Linked DNA regions of Homo sapiens: region 2 is linked to region 1. The links come from fine-mapping of genetic effects on gene expression. A gene starts in region 1. The other region holds a variant in brackets. All regions are shown on one strand. Distances are between the middles of the regions. Region 1 holds the start of BTRC (beta-transducin repeat containing E3 ubiquitin protein ligase). Region 2 overlaps BTRC (beta-transducin repeat containing E3 ubiquitin protein ligase).

Region 1 (10,115 bases):
ATGTTAATTAGGTTGATTTAACCATTCCACATCCTATACATATATCAAAGCATCACATGGTACTCCATCAATGTATACAATTACGATCTCTCAATTTAAAACAATATTAATTTAAAAAGAAAAGCGACTTTTCCACTAATTGTGCTAATAAAAGAAAAGGGAAAAACATAATCCAGAAGAACAGAAAATACAAAAATTTTATTTCTTTGTATGGCAGAAATTGTTACTTGCCTATTGCGACACCTATTAGAAGGGACTACCTTGGCCGGGCGCAGTGGCTCATGCCTGTAATCCCAGCACTTTGGGAGGCTGAGGCAGGTGGATCACAAGGTCAGGAGTTTGAGAACAGCCTGACCAACATGGTGAAATCCCGTCTCTACTAAAATACAAAAATTAGCCATGCGTAATGGTGTGTTCCTGTAATCCCAGCCACGCAGGAGGCTGAGGCAGGATAATCCAACCAGGGAGGCAGAGGTTGCAGTGAGCAGAGATCGTGCCACTGCACTCCACTCCAGCCTGGGCAACAGAGCAAGACTCCATCTCAAAAAAGAAGAAGAAGAAGGGACTACCTTAACCTTTCTCTGCCAATTCTAAACTTAACTTTATTTGTCCTCATACGCTCCTCCTCCTGTCTCTCAGAGGAGGCTAATCCCTCCATCTGTTCCTAGATCCCTTTCTGTCCTGTCTTCTCAGGAACTGTTGCCATCATTATCCTCTTTCTTTCATCCTTAGCCTTTCTCTAATGGATCCTTTCTATCAGCATTTAAATATGCTCAAGTATCTCACTTCATTTTATTCCCCAAGTTTAAATTTTGGAAAATTTCAAACCCTCAGAAAAGTTGCAAGAAGAGTACAACGAATTCCTACAACCCTTCACTTAGATCCATCAATTTTCCTTTTTTTTTTTTTGAGACAGAGTCTCTCTTTGTCACCCAGGCTGGAGTGCAGTGGTGCAATCTCGGCTCACTGCAACCTCCATCTCCCGGGTTCAAGGGGTTCTCCTGCCTCAGCCTTCCATGTAGCTGGGATTAGAGGCACACACCACCATGCCTGGCTAATTTTTTGTATTTTTAATAGAGACACCATTTCACCTTGTTGGCTAGGCTGGTCTGGAACTCTTGACCTCAAGTGATCTGCCCACCTTGGCCTCCCAAAGTACTGGGATTATAAATGTGAGCCACCACACCCAGTCAGATCCATCAATTCTTAACATTTTGCCACGTTCGCTTTAGTTGTCTTTCTCCCTCCCTTCCTCCTTCCCTCTTTCTCTCTCACTCCACATAGACACCTTCCTTATTTCCTAAACCAATTGAGAGTTAGCTGCAGGTATCATAACATTTCACCCTAAATACTTCAGCATGTATCATCTAAGACATTCTCTGATTTTCTTATTCTCACAGTTATCACACTCAGAAAACTTAACATTGATAAAATACTGTTATCTAATACACAGCCCATATTCAGTTTTTCCCTGACTGTTTCACTAATGTCTTTATTTATTTAATTTTATTTTTTTAAGAGCTGGGCATGGGGCATGGTGGCTCACGCCTGTAATCCCAGCATTTTGGGAAGCCGAGGCGAGTGGATCACTTGAGGTCAGGAGTTCAAGACCAGCCTCGCCATCATGGTGAAACCCTGTCTCTACTAAAAATACAGAAATTAGGCTGGGCGCGGTGGCTCACGCCTGTAATCCCAGCACTTTGGGAGGCTGAGGCGGGTGGATCATGAGGTCAGGAGATAGAGATCATCCTGGCTAACACAGAGAAACCCCGTCTCTACTAAATATACAAAAAATTAGCCAGGCGAGGTGGCAGGTGCCTGTAGTCCCAGCTACTTGGGAGGCTGAGGCAGGAGAATGGCGTGAACCTGGGAGGCAGAGCTTGCAGTGAGCCGAGATCGCACCACTGTACTCCAGCCTGGGCAACAGAGCGCGACTCAGTCTCAAAAAAGAGAGAGAGAGACAAGGTCTTGCCAGGTTGCCAACCTGGTCTTGAACTTCTGGGCTCAAGAGATCCTCCTGCCTTGGCTTCCCACACCTGTGTGTAAGCCACTGCACCTGGCCCTATTAATGCCTTTTATAGCTGTTTTCTCTGCTGTGTATCAGTGTCAGTGTATGTGTGTTGTTCCTGTGTCCAATCAGGGATCATTCATTGCATTTAGTTGCCATGCTTCTTCAATTTCCTTTGAACTAAAATCTTCCTTCTTTCAGACAAAACAATGCTTTCCTTAGACTCTCAACTTCTACATCCCACCACTGTGCTAGCTTTTCTCTCCTTCCCTAGATAGCCACGTTTTGTAAAGAAGAGACTCAGCAGTCTTCATATCCTCACCTCCCTCTTCAACAGGCTGCAGTGTGGCATCTGCACCCCCTAACCCCTTCATGATCCTCACTCACCAGACTTTCCTGCTACCTCTCTGGTCACTTCTTGGGCTACTTTGTAGGCTCCTCTTCCTGTGCTCGTCCTATAAATCTTACAGTTCTTTAGGACCCTGTCCTAGTCCTGTTGCTCTTTCCACTGTTTATGCTTTCCCTGGGTGATTTCTTTTCTTTCTTTATTTTATTTATTTATTTTTTTGAGACAGAGTCTTGCTCTGCCACCCAGGCTGGAGTGCAGTGGTGTGATCTCGGCTCACTGCAACCTCCACCTTCTGGGTTCAAGCGATTCTCCTGCATCAGCCTCCTGAGTAACTAGGACTACAGGTGAGCACCACCCCACCCAGCTAATTTTGTATTTTTCATAGAGATGGGGTTTCACCATGTTGGCTAGGCTGGTCTCGAACTCCTGACCTCAGGTAATCCACCTGCCTCAGCCTCCCAAAGTGCTGGGATTTCCAGTGTGAGTCACCATGCCCAGCTCCCTGGATGATTTCATTCTTTTCGGGGGAAGAAGCGGGAGTGGAGTTTCATTTACCACCTACATGCTGGAATCCCTATTTGTAGCCCAGGTCTTTCCCTCCAACTTCAGTTTCAAATCTCCAATGGCCTCCTCAACATCTGAATCCACTTAGAAATCTCACAGGCACCTTGAAGCAATATGTCCAAAAAGAGAACTGATTATCCTCCTACCACTTCTACTGTGCTTTCTGTCAAAAAAAAGAAAAAAATACATATATATGGCATCCCTCATTCATTACCTGAGCCAGATACATAGAAGTCATCTTTGACACATCCTTTTGACATCATCCATGACACATCTAATCAATCACCATACTCCACTGATTCTATCTTCTTAGTATCTCTGGAATCCATCTACTTCTTTCTGTTCTCACCACCACATTCAGGCTGCCATCATCTCTCCCAGGAATATTTCAGCAACCTCATAATCCTTTCCCCAAGCTTCCAGCTGTGCTCCATTTTAATCTCTCCTCCACCCTGGACTCTGAGTGATTTTCTGAAAATGCAAATCTGACCATTTTTTAAATTGTTCAGCTAGTTTCTCACAGCTCTCAGGATACAGTCTAAATGACTGAACTTGGCCTATAAGCTGGAGTGAAAGTCAAGGTATTTTATATCTGGTAAGGTACAGGCCCTGATGCCAGTTTAGAAAGCATGTCAGCTGATTTATCTGACCAGTTTATGCCGGCTAAATAATGGCTTGCCTATAGAGCCCCATACTCTTCTGCAGTCTCATCTAGGGCCACTCTTCCTCTAAAGTCCCACTGATCTTGTTTTGGTTCTCAGAATCAATCACCAAAAATGCAGTTACCTTTGCCTGGAATACTCTTTTCCAGTGGCTGCACCATCATCCCACCTTATCTTTTCATTTATTTATTTATTTATTTTTTTTGTAACTCCATCCTGTTACTGCCTTAGTCCTCTGAAAACCTCCAGCTAGTTTTCATACGAATGCGTTTGAAGTCTTCTCCATTTTGCACTTGTGTAGAATTTTTTTAAAAATTCAAGAACAAAACTTTTTATTAACTGAAAGCCTATTATGTATTAAGTATCATGCTGAGTTTTGTGGATATAGGGGCTAGGACAAAGTATCAACAGAGTAAAAGTGTAAGCTCCACGAGGAAATAACTGGGTCTGTCTTGTTCATTAATGAATCCCCATTCCTTTTTCTTTTTGTTTAATTAATTACTTTTATTTTTATTTCAATAGTTTTTGGGGTACAAGTGGTTTTTGGTTATATAGATGAATTATAGTGGTGAAGTCTGATATTTTAGCCACCCAAGTAGTGATGAATCCCTATTTCTTGAGATGATGTCTGCACACGGTTATATGCTTACCATTTGTTGGATGACTGAGTGAATAAGATAGTTTAAAATGGAGATTTTTTCCTATAAGTCAAAAAGTATTTTCCTAGTTCATTTATTTTATAAATTCAGATATTTTGTACAAGGCTGTCACAATCTAACTCACTTTTTTTTTTTTTTTTTTTTAGACAGAGTCTCGTTCTGTTGCCCAGCCTGGAGTGCAGTAGCGTGATCTCGGCTCACTGCAACTTCCGCCTCCCGGGTTCAAGCAATTCTCATGCCTCAGCCTGCCGAGTAGCTTGAATTACAGGCGCGTGCCACCAGGCCCGACTAATTTTTGTATTTTTAGTAGAGACGGGGGTTTCTCCATGTTGGCCAGGCTCGTCTCGAACTCCTGACCTCAGGTGATCCACCCGCCTTAGCCTCCCACAGTGCTGGGATTACAAGCGTCAGTCACCGCGCCTGGCCCTAAATCACTTTTGTTGTTGTTGTTGTTGTTATACTGTTCTTTTTCATTGCTAAGTAATATTCCACTGTGCTACATATGGAATATGCTACAATTTGTTCATACAACCACCTGCTGAGGGGCATTTGGGTGTGTGTCAGTTTTTTAGGCTGTATAACCAATTATCACAAACATAGCAGCTTAAAACAACCTAAATCACTTTTAACCAAACCCTAGAGTTTTCTCCTCCTAAGGTAGACCCAATTTCCAAAATAAACCCATATTGTACCTTTTCAGGCCAAAGAAAATATTTATATGCTTTATTTGCTGGAGGCCATTATATTCCACCGTTGAAGGACTTTTGTTAAGTACCTGTTTGACCCTTAGTGCAGGGCTTACATCCCACAGTTAGCAATAGCAAGTTATGTGCTTTTTGAGCTCTAAACACTGAGAATTTCTTGAACCGAGTTCTATTCGGCCCTGACTTGCTGTGGGGGAGAAAAGATTCCTCGGGAGAAGTGTGGGTGGCGATGGCTTAGGAGGACCTTGAAATTCCGCATTTGTCTGTGAGCTGCTGCCAGGTGCCCATTGGCCCAGCTACTCTGGGTCGCAAACCTGCAGATGCCAGATACATGAAATTTGGGGACGTTCAGCTTCCTAAAACCACAGTTAGGCAGGTCCTAGGACCCGTGATTCTTGCCACAGTTTTTCTTAGTATTTGGGCTACAAGTGAGGCATTGGCCGCCATCTTGATATCAAATGCCAGGCAAGCCGCTACTGGCGTCGCTCGGTAACCACGGAGACACCCGTGCCCCTCCCGTTTCTCATCCTTAGAGGCTGTAAACTACAATTCCCATCAGCCGATTTCCTCTGCGTAATGGCAACTTATCTAAATCTGGCTTGTGGGCAACCGCAACGCTGCCGCAGTGAACTGTGGGAGTTGCGGTTCACGGCGTAGCCTCAGTTTTTTTCCTGGGGGAAGTTCCAGAACTACAAATCCCGTGAGCCAGTGGGCTTTCGCCTGCGCACGGAGAAGCCGATTCTCCTTGGCCCCTCAGCCTGCGCCTGAGAGGTAAGAGAGGGCGGGGGGAAGGAAGAGGAGGCGGGATCCGGGCGCTGCGTTGGCTGCGGCCTGGCACCAAAGGGGCGGCCCCGGCGGAGAGCGGACCCAGTGGCCTCGGCGATTATGGACCCGGCCGAGGCGGTGCTGCAAGAGAAGGCACTCAAGTTTATGGTGAGGAGACGGTGGAGGCCGGGGAACGGTGGAGGCGCTGGCGTTGGCGGCGTCGCTGGCCTGGGCCGCCCGCCCACTGCGGGACCGGGCAGCGGGACCCTGGGCCGAGGCTGGCGGCGGAGCGGCTGGAGGGATGGGATGGGAGCTCCAGAAAGGAGGCTGGGGGTTGCGGAGCGGACCCAGGGGTGGGGGCAGCGGCTCCGCCATCTTGTGGATGAGAGGCCAAGTGACAGCGGGAGCTTAATCGAGGAGGGGGCTCCAGGCGGCGCGCGGGGCCCTGGAGGGAAAGGGGCGTGGGGACTGTTACTGAAAAGCGGAGGAAGCTCTCTGGAGAAACGCCGTGAGGCCGCTGGCGGGGCCTTCCTGGTGTCAGGGTTACCGGTAAGGCCCGGGAGAGGAGGTGCATTCACGACTGGGGAAGGGAGCGCGGGATAGAGTGAAGACAGATACGGTGGGTAGAGGGGAACGGGCAGGGCTGGATGCAGATGGATTTAAGGGTGGAGGAGGGAACGCTAGGGCTGGTGAGAGGCTTATAGTTTTGTAGAATGAGGAGGGAGGATAGCCTTTGCCTTGAGGGTGGAATCCCAGCTTGGCCAAACTACTGTTGACAAACTCTGGAAGGGAAGAGGCCTCACTAAAGAAGATAAGGACTGGGAATGAGGACCTAGGGCTATAATGACAGTCCCTGGGAGGGGAAAAGGGTGTTGACTGTAAGCTAGAATTACAAATGTCAGGGAGGGGTACATAACGCTACTTTGAAAGGAGAAGCTAAATACTGTAATAAGGACAAGGTGATGAAAAGTAAGAGCAGATTGTCAGGGAAACATGGGTACAGGAGATTGGGGCAAAATGAGTATCTAATAGGGTAAGCAAAACAAAATTTAAAGGTAAATTGTGGGACGGTAAAATGTGGAGGCCAGGTGCTTTGTATCATTTTCTGGGAAAGGAAAGGCCGTGGAGATGAGAGTTGCAAAGACCCATAAGAAGTGATGAGATCAGTTGAGAAATTTAGGAGATAAAAAGGGTGGAGGTTGGTAGAGGGAAGTAAGTCAGGGATAAGTCAGGATTTGTGGTTACCCGTCAGTTTTAGGTTGAAGCACAGTGTGAGCAAAGATTGGATTTTGTGGGTGTGCTTAAACCCCTTGGAACATATTTCTTTAACTTTGTATCACGCTTTTCTTTTTGCTGTGCTTATCTTTGGCAAACTCGTATAGTCTGATATTTGATGCTTTTAATCTGATGCTTTTTGTATTTCCTAGGTGTAAAACCAGACTTTGTGGTTACAACTAAAGAATGATGGAATGCATAGATTTTAAGCTTAACAGGTGGCCTTAGGGACATTGATATTATTTGCAGTCCAGTCTTGCTTTTTCAGAAGTTATTGTGACTTGTCACTCCAAATCTTACTCCTTTGCTTAAAAAAATAGCTATTTTGTATCTTTGCCTAAAATACCGTAACAAATCCAGATAAACATGGATACTAACAAAATTGAATTTTAGACTTTAAACTGCCCCATTTATAAGAATACTTTTTTGGAATCTAGTCAAATTCACTAAAACTTTATCTTGCATTAGTGTTTTCGAAAACACCTAATTAAAATTCAGGGGTATCATTAACAAAATTTCATTGAGCCTGAAGAAGGTTCTTGGATTTCTGCCCAACATTAAAATTCTAAATATGAAGAAGAGACCTTGAACTTTTACTGGACTTTAGAAGTAAGTGAAAGTTACTACACTTAAGTTAGAAAACTGTTACTGCTTATTTTTGTTTTCCTACTTAGAGGGTTGACTCCTTTTTTTCTTCTTTTGAGATGGAGTCTTGCTTTGTCGCCCAGGCTGGAGTGCAGTGGTGCAGCCTCCGCCTCCTGGGTTCAAGCGATTCTCCTGCCTCAGCCTCCCGAGTAGCTAGAACTACAGGTGTGGGCCACCACGCCCATCTAATTTTTTATTTTTAGTAGAGTCGGGGTTTCACTATGTTGGCCAGGATGGTCTCATCTCCTGACCTCGTGATCCGCCCACCTTGGCCTCCCAAAGTGCTGGGATTTCAGGTGTGAGCCACAGCGCCCAGCAGAGGGTTGACTCTTAATCCTAATCCTGACATTTGTGTCAGATTTATGGAATAATGTGATTTACAGATCATAAAGAGACATTATGAGATCATCCTTTTTACTCTCAGTTAGACTTCAGCCTAGTAACATTCTCAGCTACTTAATCTCTGCTTTGTACCAGTGAGTTATGTTTTGATAATGGCCTCCCTGGTTGAGTTAAAGTGGACTTGGAGATGACCATATAGTAGTTGCAGCTTTTAGAGCACCACACATTATTAAATCTTGAATCAGTTTTCATAGGGAGAAGCCAATTTTTTCTTTTAATTTTAGTTACTTTCATTATTGACCTTGCCTGCTGTTTTGGCTGCCATTTGAGAAAAGGTCAACTAGAAGAGGGTCACCAGAATGACACCTTAATAAAAGAAACAGAGAATGGAGAGTTTGAGATTGGGTATTCTCTTTCAGTGCAGTAACAGTCTTATGAATCTGAGTAAGTCACAACTTCCCTTTGGTGCCATTTACCCTGCTATAACATGTCTGTTTATTCAGAGTCAGTTTTAAGAAAGGAAGATAGGCCGGGTGCGGTGGCTCATGCCTGTAATCCAGGACTTTGGGAGGCCGAGGCAGGCGGATCACGAGGTCAGGAGATCGAGACCATCCTGGCTAACATGGTGAAACTCCGTCTCTCTAAAAATACAAAAAATTAGGCGGGTGTGGCAGCGTGCGCCTGTAGTCCCAGCTACTCGGGAGGCTGAGGCAGGAGAATGGCGTGAACCCGGGAGGTGGAGCTTGCAGTGAGCCAAGATCGCGCCACTGCACTCCAGCCTGGGCGACAGAGCAAGACTCCGTCTCAAAAAAACAAACAAACAAAAAAGGAAGATATTGGCCAGGCGTGGTGGCTCATGCCTGTAATCCCAGCACTTTGGGAGGCTGAGGCGGGCGGAACACGAGGTCAGGAGATTGAGACCATCCTGGCCAACATGGTGAAACCCTGTCTCTACTAAAAATACAAAAATTAGCCAGGCCTGGTGGCGCGCACCTGTAGTCCCAGCTACTCGGGAGGCTGAGGCAGTAGAATCACTTGAACCCAGGAGGTGGAGGTTGCAGTGAGCTGAGATCGTGCCATTACACTCCAGCCTGGGTGACAGAGCGAGACTCTGTCTCAAAAAAAAAAAAAAAAAAAAAGGAAGCTATTTGAGCTAGCATCAAATAATTAGTGCACAGTACACATGGAAGAACTATCCTTTTAATCAAACGGGCATTTTTATTACTATTTGGCTTTGTTCTGGTCTTAACCTTTCCCTCAATTGTGAATCGCTAATGACAACTTTTATACAGATGTCATGATTTCCATGGTTTAAACAAATGTAAAATTAGTTTAAAATGCCAGAATGAAATGGATACTCTCACAAATTTGCTCATTGCTATACTAAAGTGCCTTGATAAAGAATTTTACAATAAAATCCTGTTAATAAGACTGCTGATTCAGAGATGACCATAATTCACACGTGATCGAGACTTAAAGCTTATTGTTTTACTTGTGAAAAAAGTTTAAGCAGAATGTTTAACTTTTAAAAACAAATAAATGATATTGAAAGCAACGGTTTACATTAACTTACGTGCTAATGTCTCTCATTCAGCTTTAGCAGGTCCTCAAGGACCTTTCTTAATACTTTTTTGGTTAACAAAAGTATAAATGGAAACTTGAAGAGAACCTAAGAAGAGAAATGAAAATGATTGAGGGAATATAGACCCCAAAACACACAAACACACACACACAAGCACGTTTAAGATAGGGGTTGAAAAGACATACTGAGGAGGAATTTGAACTTTATTTTTGTTTTCACCTTTGAGACAGGGTCTCACTATGTTGCCCAGGCTAGAGTGCAGTCATAGCTTGCTGCAGCCTCAAACTCCCAGGCTCACATGATCCTCCTGCCTCGGCGTCTCAAGTGGCTACAGGCACACACCACTATGCTGGCTATTTTTTTTTTCTTTTTTGTTTTTGTAGAGACAAGGGTCGCCCTTTGTTGACAGGGGTGGTTTTTGAACTCCTGGGCTCAAGGGGTCCTCCTGCCTTGGCCTCCCATTGTTGGGATTACAGGCGTGAGCCACCTTGCCAAGCCACGTTTATTTTTAAAAACAGGATAAATATATTCTTGTCCAGCCAATCCCAGAATCAAGTACA
Region 2 (10,115 bases), 200 kb after region 1:
GTGTGGTGGCATGAGTCTATAGTCCTCACTACTTGGGAGGCTTAAGCAGGAAAATCACTTGAGCCCAGGAGTTTGAGGTTACAGTGAGCTATGATCACACTACCGCATTCTAGCCTAGGTGACAAAACAAGACTCTGTCTCTAAAAAAAATGATGATGATGACACCTGTAATCCCAGCACTTTGGGAGGCCGAGGCGGGTGGATCACGAGGTCAGGAGATCAAGACCATCCTGGCTAACACGATGAAACCCCGTCTCTACTAAAAATACAAAAAATTAGCCAGGTGTGGTGGCAGGCGCCTGTAGTCCCAGCTACTCGGGAGGCTGAGGCAGGAGAACGGCGTGAACCCGGGAGGCAGAGCTTGCGGTGAGCTGAGATGGCACCACTGCACTCCAGCAGGGGCGAAAGAGCGAGACTCTGTCTCAAAAAAAAAAAAAAAAAAAAAAAGATGATGATGATAAAATTGGAGTGGAGGTAACATTGTTTAGTAAGGGGTGTGAGATTGTTTTCCAGTATGCTGGGAACATTCTACATCTTCATCAGGGTGGTAACTGCCAGTGGTGTGCTAGAACAGGCTCATACTCACTTATGAGAGCCAACTATTAGATATTCATGAATTTTGCCAGCTGGTTGACTATGACTAGCTTATAATTGGCCATGATAGGAGTTTTTAATGCCGTGGAAATCTACCGATGGTTTTACAAAGTAGCAAAGTTTGGTTGATAAACATTTATCAGCATACTGCTTCTTATTGCTCACCAATCCTTGACCTCTGATTGTAGAAGGAACTTAGAAGATAAAAACCAGGGAGGTAGTAAGGAATGCTCTCATCCACCCTACGCCAAAAAGGGTTGGCCATGAGAAACTATTAATAGCATGCTATTTAGCATGTCTTGGCCAAAGAGTATTGCTTTGTTTACAGCTGCCTAGTATTTGACTTTTCCATGCTGCCTTTAGCCAAAGTAAATTTTCTCTATTTTTTTAATTTATTTATTTTTATTTTATTTTTTTTTTAGACAGAGTCTCACTCTGTTGCCCAGGCTGGAGTGCAGTGGAGTGATCTCGGCTCACTGCAACCTCCACCTCCCAGGTTCAAGCAATTCTTCTGCCTCAGCCTCCCAAGTAGCTGGGACTATAGGCACATGCCACCAGCCCGGCTAACTTTTTGTATTTTTATAGAGATGGGGTTTCACTGTGTTAGCCAGGATGGTCTCGATCTCCTGACCTCGTGATCCGCATGCCTCAGGCTCCCAAAGTGCTGGGATTACAGGTGTGAGCCACTGCGCCTGGCCTCTTTATAACAGCAAACCATAGCCTTTCCGTAGACTCCTTTTGACATGTTGCTGAATTTGTGTCCTATTGATTTTGAGTAGTTCAAGTTCCTACCCTTTTTGTTTCTACTTCTTTAGGAGCATTCCGGAAGAGTTTTTCGACTACAGTTTGATGAATTCCAGATTGTCAGTAGTTCACATGATGACACAATCCTCATCTGGGACTTCCTAAATGATCCAGCTGCCCAAGCTGAACCCCCCCGTTCCCCTTCTCGAACATACACCTACATCTCCAGATAAATAACCATACACTGACCTCATACTTGCCCAGGTATCGAAATCGATTATGTACATAACACTGTGGGTAGGAGACGGGATATTAGCTGTAAGGTGTTGCTAGTTCATGGAACTTTCTCCTGCCGTTTGGGTCACCAACTCCTGTAAAGCCGAGGAAGCAGACAATGTGAGACAGGGCTGAAGCTGCCACAGTGTGGACAGTGCCTTTCACCAAGGTAGCCAGCCTCAGTTCTAGATGATTCTAGGGTCCTACTTGTGTGGTAAGCCTAGTCATTCCTGCCCTAGTTATCTAGTAGTACTGTTATGAAAATAAAATGAGATTTGAATCAGTTTGAAAACTAAGTACTGTAATGACCCAAAGGCCTGTGATGTTTAAGTTCCCAGATCAAACAATACCTACAATAGAGACCTTTCAAGCCAAGTAAACAGTCTGATGTCTAATGTGTGAATGGAAACATCTCTTGGTGAAAGTTCACACTGACATATAAATAAAAGGGCAGATTTTAAAAGGAATATAAAAAGTAGCTTTTATATCCCTATCCCTATTCCTCAACCCTCCAAAAAGAGGACCTGTCTTTTGACCTCTGACCTCCACATGTCCTCCCACTCAAGTCTCCAACCTCTCTCTCAGGCAGGGGAAGATCCTAAAATACCCAGGTGGTCCATACATATTGTGGTATATTCAGATCATACCTGCTGTTCTAACCAGTTCGAATACACTAGGTTGTTACCAGTTTGAGAAGGCTGCCCTAGCTGCTGAGGAGCGTTGCTGTCAGGATTTGCCACGTGTGCCTCAGTTCTCGTGGCGGAAGTACATGTTCGCTACACGTTTCTGCATCTCTCTTTGCAGTGTTCCGCTGAGGACAGTGATTCACGCCCAGCTGGGCTGTCCTCAGCTTCTCTTTCTCTCACAGAGGACACGGTTCGTCGTTCCTCAGCCAGGTCGCACAGGCTGTGTGCCCTTAGACAAGTAACTTCCCAGACCCTGAATCTCTTGATGAGTAACGTGAGGGGCAGCACTCACCTCACGGAACCCTGTGAAGGCTGTGTGGAGATACTGCATGGAAAATTCCTAGTGCTTAGCACAGTGGCGAATACATAATATGCCCTCAGGAAAAACTGGTCATGAGTATTAATATTGCAATCTCCATATACCTACCCCCTCCTTTGCCCAAAATTTTCTCTTCCTTAGACTTCCGTGTTACTTTGCCATTTTTAATATTCTTCCTGACTCTCTGATTATTTGTGCTTCTTTCCCCCTCACTCCCAAGAGTCTGTTTCTGGCTTTTCTTATTATTTTTATTTTATTTTATTTTATTTCATTTTATTTTATTTTATTTTATTTCTTGAAACAGGGCTTCACTCCTGTCACCCAAGCTGGAGTGCAGTGGCACAATGTCAGCTCATTGCAACCTCCACCTCCTGGGCTCAAGTGATTCTCCTGCCTCAGCCTCCTGAGTACCGCGGGCACACAACACCATGACCAGCTAATTGTTTGTATTTTTTTTTTTTTTTTGGAGAGATGGAGTTTCACCATGTTGCCCAGGCTGGTCTCGAACTCCTGAGCTCAAGTGATCCACCTCCCTTGGCCTCCCAAAGTTACTGGGATTACAGGTGTGAGCCACCGCACCCGGCCTGTCTCTGGCTTTTCTTCCTTATCTGAGTTCCTTCTTAGGCTGCCTTCTCTATTCCCAAGGCTTCAGATCTCATCTCATTGTAGAAGACTCAAATTTCTGTCTCCAGTCCAAGCCTCTGCCTTAATCTCCAGGCCACATTTCCAGCTGCCATCCACACAGCTGTCCTTGAAGATAGCAAGAGCACTTCTAGTGCTCACATCCTCAACTGCACTGTCCCCTCCTTTACACTGCTGGTACCCTGCAGCCACACAGCCAGGCCAGCTTTCCTTGATTCCCCCACTTCTGTTACTGGCACCGCCATGCTCATGGCCACTCAAAAGGCAGGGCCCACAGACCATCCCCCACCCCTGCCCTGCCATTCTACAGGGCAAGTGAAAGCTATGCCAACCGTGGGCACTCTCAGCCTCAAGACATCAGAGTCACTCTGCTTGAACACCACAGCCCTGAGCATGTCAGCAAGCCCTGCCTTTAGTATAACTTCCCCCATCAGGCCAGGTCACCTTTGACAGAAGCTCCTGCATGGCATAGGCAGAGAGCAGGCATTAGGAAGGACCCCTAAGCCTTTTCCCCATTGGCAGCTAAGTGAATGTTCTTTTGTCTTCAAGCAAGTAAGAAATATCAAAAAAGGGGCTAATGACTATTTGCTCTGTTTTCACACAGGACCCATTAAAGTTGCGGTATTTAACGTATCTGCCAATACCAGGATGAGCAACAACAGTAACAATCAAACTACTGCCCAGTTTCCCTGGACTAGCCGAGGAGCAGGGCTTTGAGACTCCTGTTGGGACACAGTTGGTCTGCAGTCGGCCCAGGACGGTCTACTCAGCACAACTGACTGCTTCAGTGCTGCTATCAGAAGATGTCTTCTATCTTTTGTGAATGATTGGAACTTTTAAACCTCCCCTCCTCTCCTCCTTTCACCTCTGCACCTAGTTTTTTCCCATTGGTTCCAGACAAAGGTGACTTATAAATATATTTAGTGTTTTGCCAGAATCTCTCTTGCTTTGCCATTAAGCAGAAGAACTAGTTTCCCTGTATAGCCTGCTGGGAGAGACCCACTTCTAGGGTATGGGGGATGCAGCTTCAAGCCCAGTGCCCAGTGTCTCCCTGTTAACTGCAGGAATGCCAAGCACCTGGCCAGAGCAGCCCAGCCCCAATATGCTTAGGAGGAGACAGAGTTCCCTCTGTATAGCCTCTGGGACAAGAAAAAGAAAACACAAGAATGTATACACTGGAAGATTTGGGCCTCCTGCCTGCCTTCTCTTTGTTTCTGTTCCTCTTCCCATCTACTCCC[C/G]TACGCCCCTTCAACCTTTTTTCTCTGTCTGCTTCACCTGAGAAGAAAGTGTACGAAGAGAGTGTCCTCCTCTCACATGAGCCAGATCAGCCAGAAAATGCAACACTTGGAAGAGTTAAATGCTGTTCAGTGAAGATTTCAGCCCCAGGCCTTTGCTGCAAGTGACCCTGTGGCAACAGTGGATTCTCAGACATGATACTCTCATCATATTTGCAACTCTTCTCTCTCTTTCTTCCCCACACCCAAGAGGAGGATTGGTGGTAGGGGGCAGGCAGAGGGGGTGGGGAGAAGTTTCCTGGGCTCCATCAATGGCTGCATCTTTTCTGGACTCAGCAGTCTCCTTGATTCCATGTAGAGTGTGGAAAGGAGTTGCTGATTGCATTTCCTCTCATTAACAATTGGGTGTGTAATAAAAAGCATTGTACTTCATCTTAAATCACTGGTAAGGCTCAGCCTACAGAAAGATTTGAAATGGCCAGAGCCAATCGCTTGGTGCATTCTGCGTAATGGTTTCCATCTCCGATTTCCTCATCAGGGCCTGTGAATACCCAGGTGCCTGTATCTTTGCCAAGACCGTGATCAAGGTAGCTTAAGAGAGATGGTCAGGAGAAAACACTGTTTTTGTTTTTTTTGTTGTTTTGTTTTGTTTTGGCCAGTTAAATATCATCTCTCAAATATTGATCTCACCGTGTCAACCTTGCACTGCACAACCTTCCTTCTGCTTCTCCCACACCCAGTATTTGCAGAAGGGCAAAGCTGCTTAAGAGAGAGGATCAGGGTGAAGTTTGGCACACAGGGTTTATTAATGGGGCAAAAACTGCCTTTTCTTCCTCCTCCTGACCTTATTTTGCTCTTCACTCTCCCCAGCCAATAAAGCGTCTGTGGCGATTGGTGAACAGCATAAACAGCTGGACCTCAGCAAGGGTCAGGCAAACCCAGTCACTCGGAAGGCAGCTGTGTGAGCTGCCAAGCTAGTGGGCTTCAGGTGCAAGGGTACCTGTGCCACACCAACCTGGGAGCACACAGAATACTATTAATGTGCACCCAGCTGGTCTCCCCAGGCAAGAAGGTATCCTCTTCCCAAGGTGTACCCACTGAATGTTGTTACTACATATTGAGAGTCATTTTATGCATATGCATTCTACCTTTCCTGCTTTATGAGTATTTTTAAGCTTTTAGTTCAAGGTTATATTCAGAAAATATTTCCCAGTATAATGATACATCGTAGCCTAAGAAATATTTTCTCAATGTAATTCCCTTCCCAGCTACCCAAATGCTACAGAGAAATGTTTTCTACTTGGCCACTATCAGGGTTCGTCATCTATTGTGTTGACTATTAATGGCTTTTTGATTGGGTAAGGATTTTGCTATAGATGAAGGTAGAGGGCTGTCAGCCCTGAAAAACACACAGGTCAGACATTTAAAAGGCATGGGTTTCGAGCTGTCTCAAAATATTGCCCAATAGCCATAATTTTACCAGCCTTTCTGTCATATGCTGCTATTACAAAGTGGAAGCTGTTGAATGTTTATTGGTGCCCAGGGTTTTGCTCTCCAATCTAGGTTCAGTTGAAGGAATATTGTTTCTAAGACTGTTTTGAGACATGTCCAGTACATCACAAAGGAGATCGGGGCGACCCCTGCAGATGTGGAGCCATTAGCCCAGTTGAGGATATTCTCCAAGTTGTCCTCTCTCCTGCTGATGGAAATGGGAATGAAGTTAAGTGGTCTGAAAAACTTGAATCGTTCACATTTCTCAGCTCTGGGGGTCATTTACCAGTTTGTTGTAGAAGAAATAATCAGGTAAGTTAAAAGTTCATTTCCAGAGAAGGTAAACCCCACTTACCATCTCTGCATGATTTCAGTGGGAATTGATTATCACTAATCCCCAACTGGGCTAGAATAAATGTAAAGTTTGACCTTTTTAAAACGAAAAGAGAGACAAAGTCTCAGCACATTCCAAGGAGTGGTAGAAACAGAGCTGAAGGTGTCCCCATTGTAGATTAGTCTCTTCTCACTAAAATTTACTTTCCAACGTAGGGCCTAAAGGAAACCTTTCTTAAAGACAGGCTGAAACCCCTTCAAAGGCAGATGAGGAGGTACAGACACGTGACCTTTTGGTGCACACTGGAGCTACTTGGACAAGACCAGCATGCCTTGCTGCACGTGTGTGTATTTCACTGCTGAGAACATCCTTTAACTTGGTGTGCAATTTGAAAGGATGTGAATCATGGATGGAAGGCCATTTGTACATGTCCCTTGGCAAAATTCTTTCTGGTGTCTCCTAACTTCAGAGACAGGGACTCTTTTTGGATCTCTATTGACAAGTAATAAAAGTCTGGCCCTCATAACTTGTTTCCGAACTAGAAAAGTCTGTGAGACCCCTACATCATTCTGGTTTTTTTGCTTGAGTAAGAACAATCCTTTTTTATTTTTCTTCTGTACAGTCTAAAGCTACAGAGAAAAAAAAATGCACTCTTCCCTTGCCGGCTCCTGGTACCATTGGTCTGAACAGCTGTAGTTGGTCTACTCCTTACTTAGCACTTGATTGTGTGGGGAAACAAAGGTGGGAGGGGTGGGGAATACTGGAAATAATCAGGGCAATTTTTTTCTTTCCCATAATTGGACTAGATACCTTGGTACTGTTGACCTTCTCAGCATCTCCCTTTTGCCTTAGATGGCAACACCCTCCAGTCTGTAGCAGAGCAGTCCAACCCAGATTAGTGCAGCCCGGAGGCTTAGGGTGCAGCCTCCCTGGTCTTCCTCCACACAGTTGTTCACCAACAGACCAGACCTCCTTTAACCACAGTGTCAACATAGTATCGGAAAGAGAGCCATTTCTTAGGGGAATAAAACAGTTTCGCTTCTTTAGCTCATCTGTGGTGTCAGAATCCTTGGAGCTGAAGAGAGAAATCAAAAGAGCATGATGATGGCTGCCTGGTTTCAGGTGGAACTTAATGCATTGATCTTTAGAAGCTCCTTCTGTTGGAAGTTGAGTACCTGTGATCTAAAATGTCCTGGAGGCAGATGACATCTAAAATATGTGCTTTCCAACCAGCACAGCTGGCGCTCTTAGCTCCTGATTGGTTGTGTGTTTTATTAAGGATCAGTGCAGTTAAGTCGTATTTTAAAGTGTTACCTCCCCTCCTAACCCTTCCCCTTCTTGGACACTGAAGGAAAAGGCCAACTAGGGTGTTAGCCCTCTGGGCACCAAGGAAACTAACAGCTTTCTCAAAGCGGTGACCACTCAGGCCAGCCCAGACAAATCTGAGGGATGGCCAGTGCACTCCAATGATGGGACAGGCCTAACAACACATGTAAGCTTCCCCGAGAGCTTTCAGCTGGTTCACCTCTTTGTTCTCTAGACTCTTAAGTACTGACTGCTTTGACTTTTGTGATTATGTTATGGTGATGTGTAGTCAGTGTACCAATATGTTCACAACCTAGGATCATGATAATGGAGTGTGTTTTGGGTTTTTTTTAACTGTTCAGAAAAAAAGTAAATTACAAATATAAGATTAAAGTGAATTTTCTAAGCGTCTTGTCTCCTTGCCCCAGCATCCAGAAGGGCAGTACACTTTTCAGTATACAGACTGAGGGAGTGCAGAGATAGAATACCTTTGCAGATAATCTGACATGAGAAAACAAGATTGAGAGAAAGCAGGGCTGGATGCTGTGGATGAGTGTGGGGTCCCTGGCTTACGCCTACTGTTCCATGTTGAGTTAAATTGAAGCCAAAGTCATGTCTCATTTGTGCATTGGTCACCTTAGCCAACCACAGCCCAACCTGAATGCAGAATTTACATTTTTCTCTGCCCCTCAGCTGTGAAAAGACTTGAGTTTCCCCTACATCCCATTTGATCAGTTTATAGGCAAGCAAGCTCACATCTGGGAGCAATTTCCAGAGGGGCTCCAACAAGCTGTAAGAATGAAGGCACCCTTGACTATCTGGGATATGACATTGCAGTTCTTGAGTGAAACCCCCCTTCCCTCCTTCAGCCAAACCTGGAGAGGTACAAGGTTGCAGGCAGTGGCCGAATGGGACTATCTCTCCCCGTTGGCCCTGTACCCCTCCCCTCTCTAGTGTCACAAACAGGATCCTTGTCAAAATTGACCCATCCTTCTTTTAGATCTATGGGCTTTTTGTATTAATAACCCTTCCACATGACCAAGGCTCTCTGGCTTCCATCAGCCTTGTAGTCTCATTGTCTTGTCTGGACTGACCACTGGCCATGAGCAATCTCAGACTGTGGTCAATATCAGGGCCGCTGTGCAGAACCCTCCCTACTAGAGCTGGAAGAATGTCAGAGCATCAGGTCCACCCAACCCTTGGCAGATGAGGAAACTGAGGAGAAAGAAAAGGGACCCACATTGCCCAAAACTACACTGAAGAATCCTCCCTAACAACTAAGGGCAGGCAGCACCCAAGAGAGAGAAGGAAGGGAGGGAGGTGTCAGAGGAACCACTGTGGGGCCACTGGTATCTGCTCAGTTAATATTCCTCACCAGCTGGGCTCCTGAGCAGAGGCTGAGCCTAAGAGTTTGTGGACCTCACCCTCAAACTGTGTCAGATCTCTTCCCCAGGAAGGGTGTGGTCTAGGGCCTGCCCTGGCAAGTCTCAACCCTATAGCCGTGGTTTCCTACTCCCAGGCTGGGCCAGGAATCCCTCCCTGCTTTAAACCTATAGCTGTGCCACCATCAGCAATGACTAAGGGGAGGAGATCTCTCTTCTTCCTGATTGGCTCTTGCCAATTAAGAGCACTTTATTAGGCTGCTAATTAAAGGCACTTCGTTAGCAGCAGGAGAGGCCAAGTGGGTGCCTGGTGAGACGGAGGTGAAGCCTGGAGAAATTGTTTTCGTCCCCCCATGGAAGCAGAGCCTCTCAGGGAAGCTCTCAGTCCCCACCCTCTCCTGCTGCGCCTACAACACCCCTTGCTTTCAATTAGCAACTCTGAGGGGAGCAAGGTGATTACCAAACCCAAGCTGGAACCCCCCACCACCACCAGCACCACCTCAGGCTGCATGCGGTCCTCAGGGGCTGGCCAGACCCCCAGGCACCTCATGAACCCGGGCCCAGGGAAGGAGAGGCTGGGCAGCCCAATGGGGAGTGTGCTCTCCCCACTAAGGAATGGGGCATGACTCCCCAAGCAGCTCAGGTGAATGTCACCTGGTCCTCATCATTGGGGCCATCCCTAGCAGTCACTGGATAACCAGTCACTTGTTCACATAGTGTGAATCCTCATGCTCCTTTCCTCAACAAACACTCATGATTTCATGGAGGAAATGTGCCCTTCCCACCCGTGAGGGACAGTCCCTGGTCGTTTAACAAGAGCACAGCCCACGTAGACCCTGAATGGGTCCTGGAGGAGAGGGGGCTGACAGTTTTACAATCCCGGCCATGCAGACCCTTGAGCGACTCCTGTCCCTGAGCTCATGTCGAATGTGAGGCGCTTCCCCTGGACGGTCCGAATGAGCCCCCTGCAAGAGAGGAGAGCCTGGCTATGACCTAGCACGTGGGGGTTGGCATGCAGGGACACCCCCTCTCCAGAGCCCTGCCTGTCCCATCTTGTGCCCACCTCACCCCTCAGTTAACTGCAGAATTAGCACCGGCCGTGAGGGC

What was found. PIP is the estimated chance that this variant, and not a neighbour inherited with it, causes the effect. A credible set is the group of variants that fine-mapping cannot tell apart.
Region 2: its variant is the best candidate, but not a certain one, in a credible set for the expression of BTRC in whole blood (TOPMed, PIP 0.55).

What each region holds. Positions count from the first base shown.
Region 1 is chr10:101,348,350-101,358,464 of GRCh38, forward strand. BTRC (beta-transducin repeat containing E3 ubiquitin protein ligase) reads left to right here and starts at 5,816. Exons shown (of 15, transcript NM_033637.4): 1 at 5,816-5,879. The coding sequence starts at 5,832. RefSeq lists an enhancer at 2,392-3,591 and a silencer at 5,860-6,039.
Region 2 is chr10:101,549,290-101,559,404 of GRCh38, forward strand. It overlaps BTRC (beta-transducin repeat containing E3 ubiquitin protein ligase), which reads left to right. Exons shown (of 15, transcript NM_033637.4): 14 at 1,410-1,602; 15 at 3,866-8,024. The coding sequence ends at 1,571. Among named protein-coding and RNA genes, the nearest start is that of POLL, 34 kb to the right of the region's middle. The variant C/G (reference allele first, on the strand shown) is at 4,500.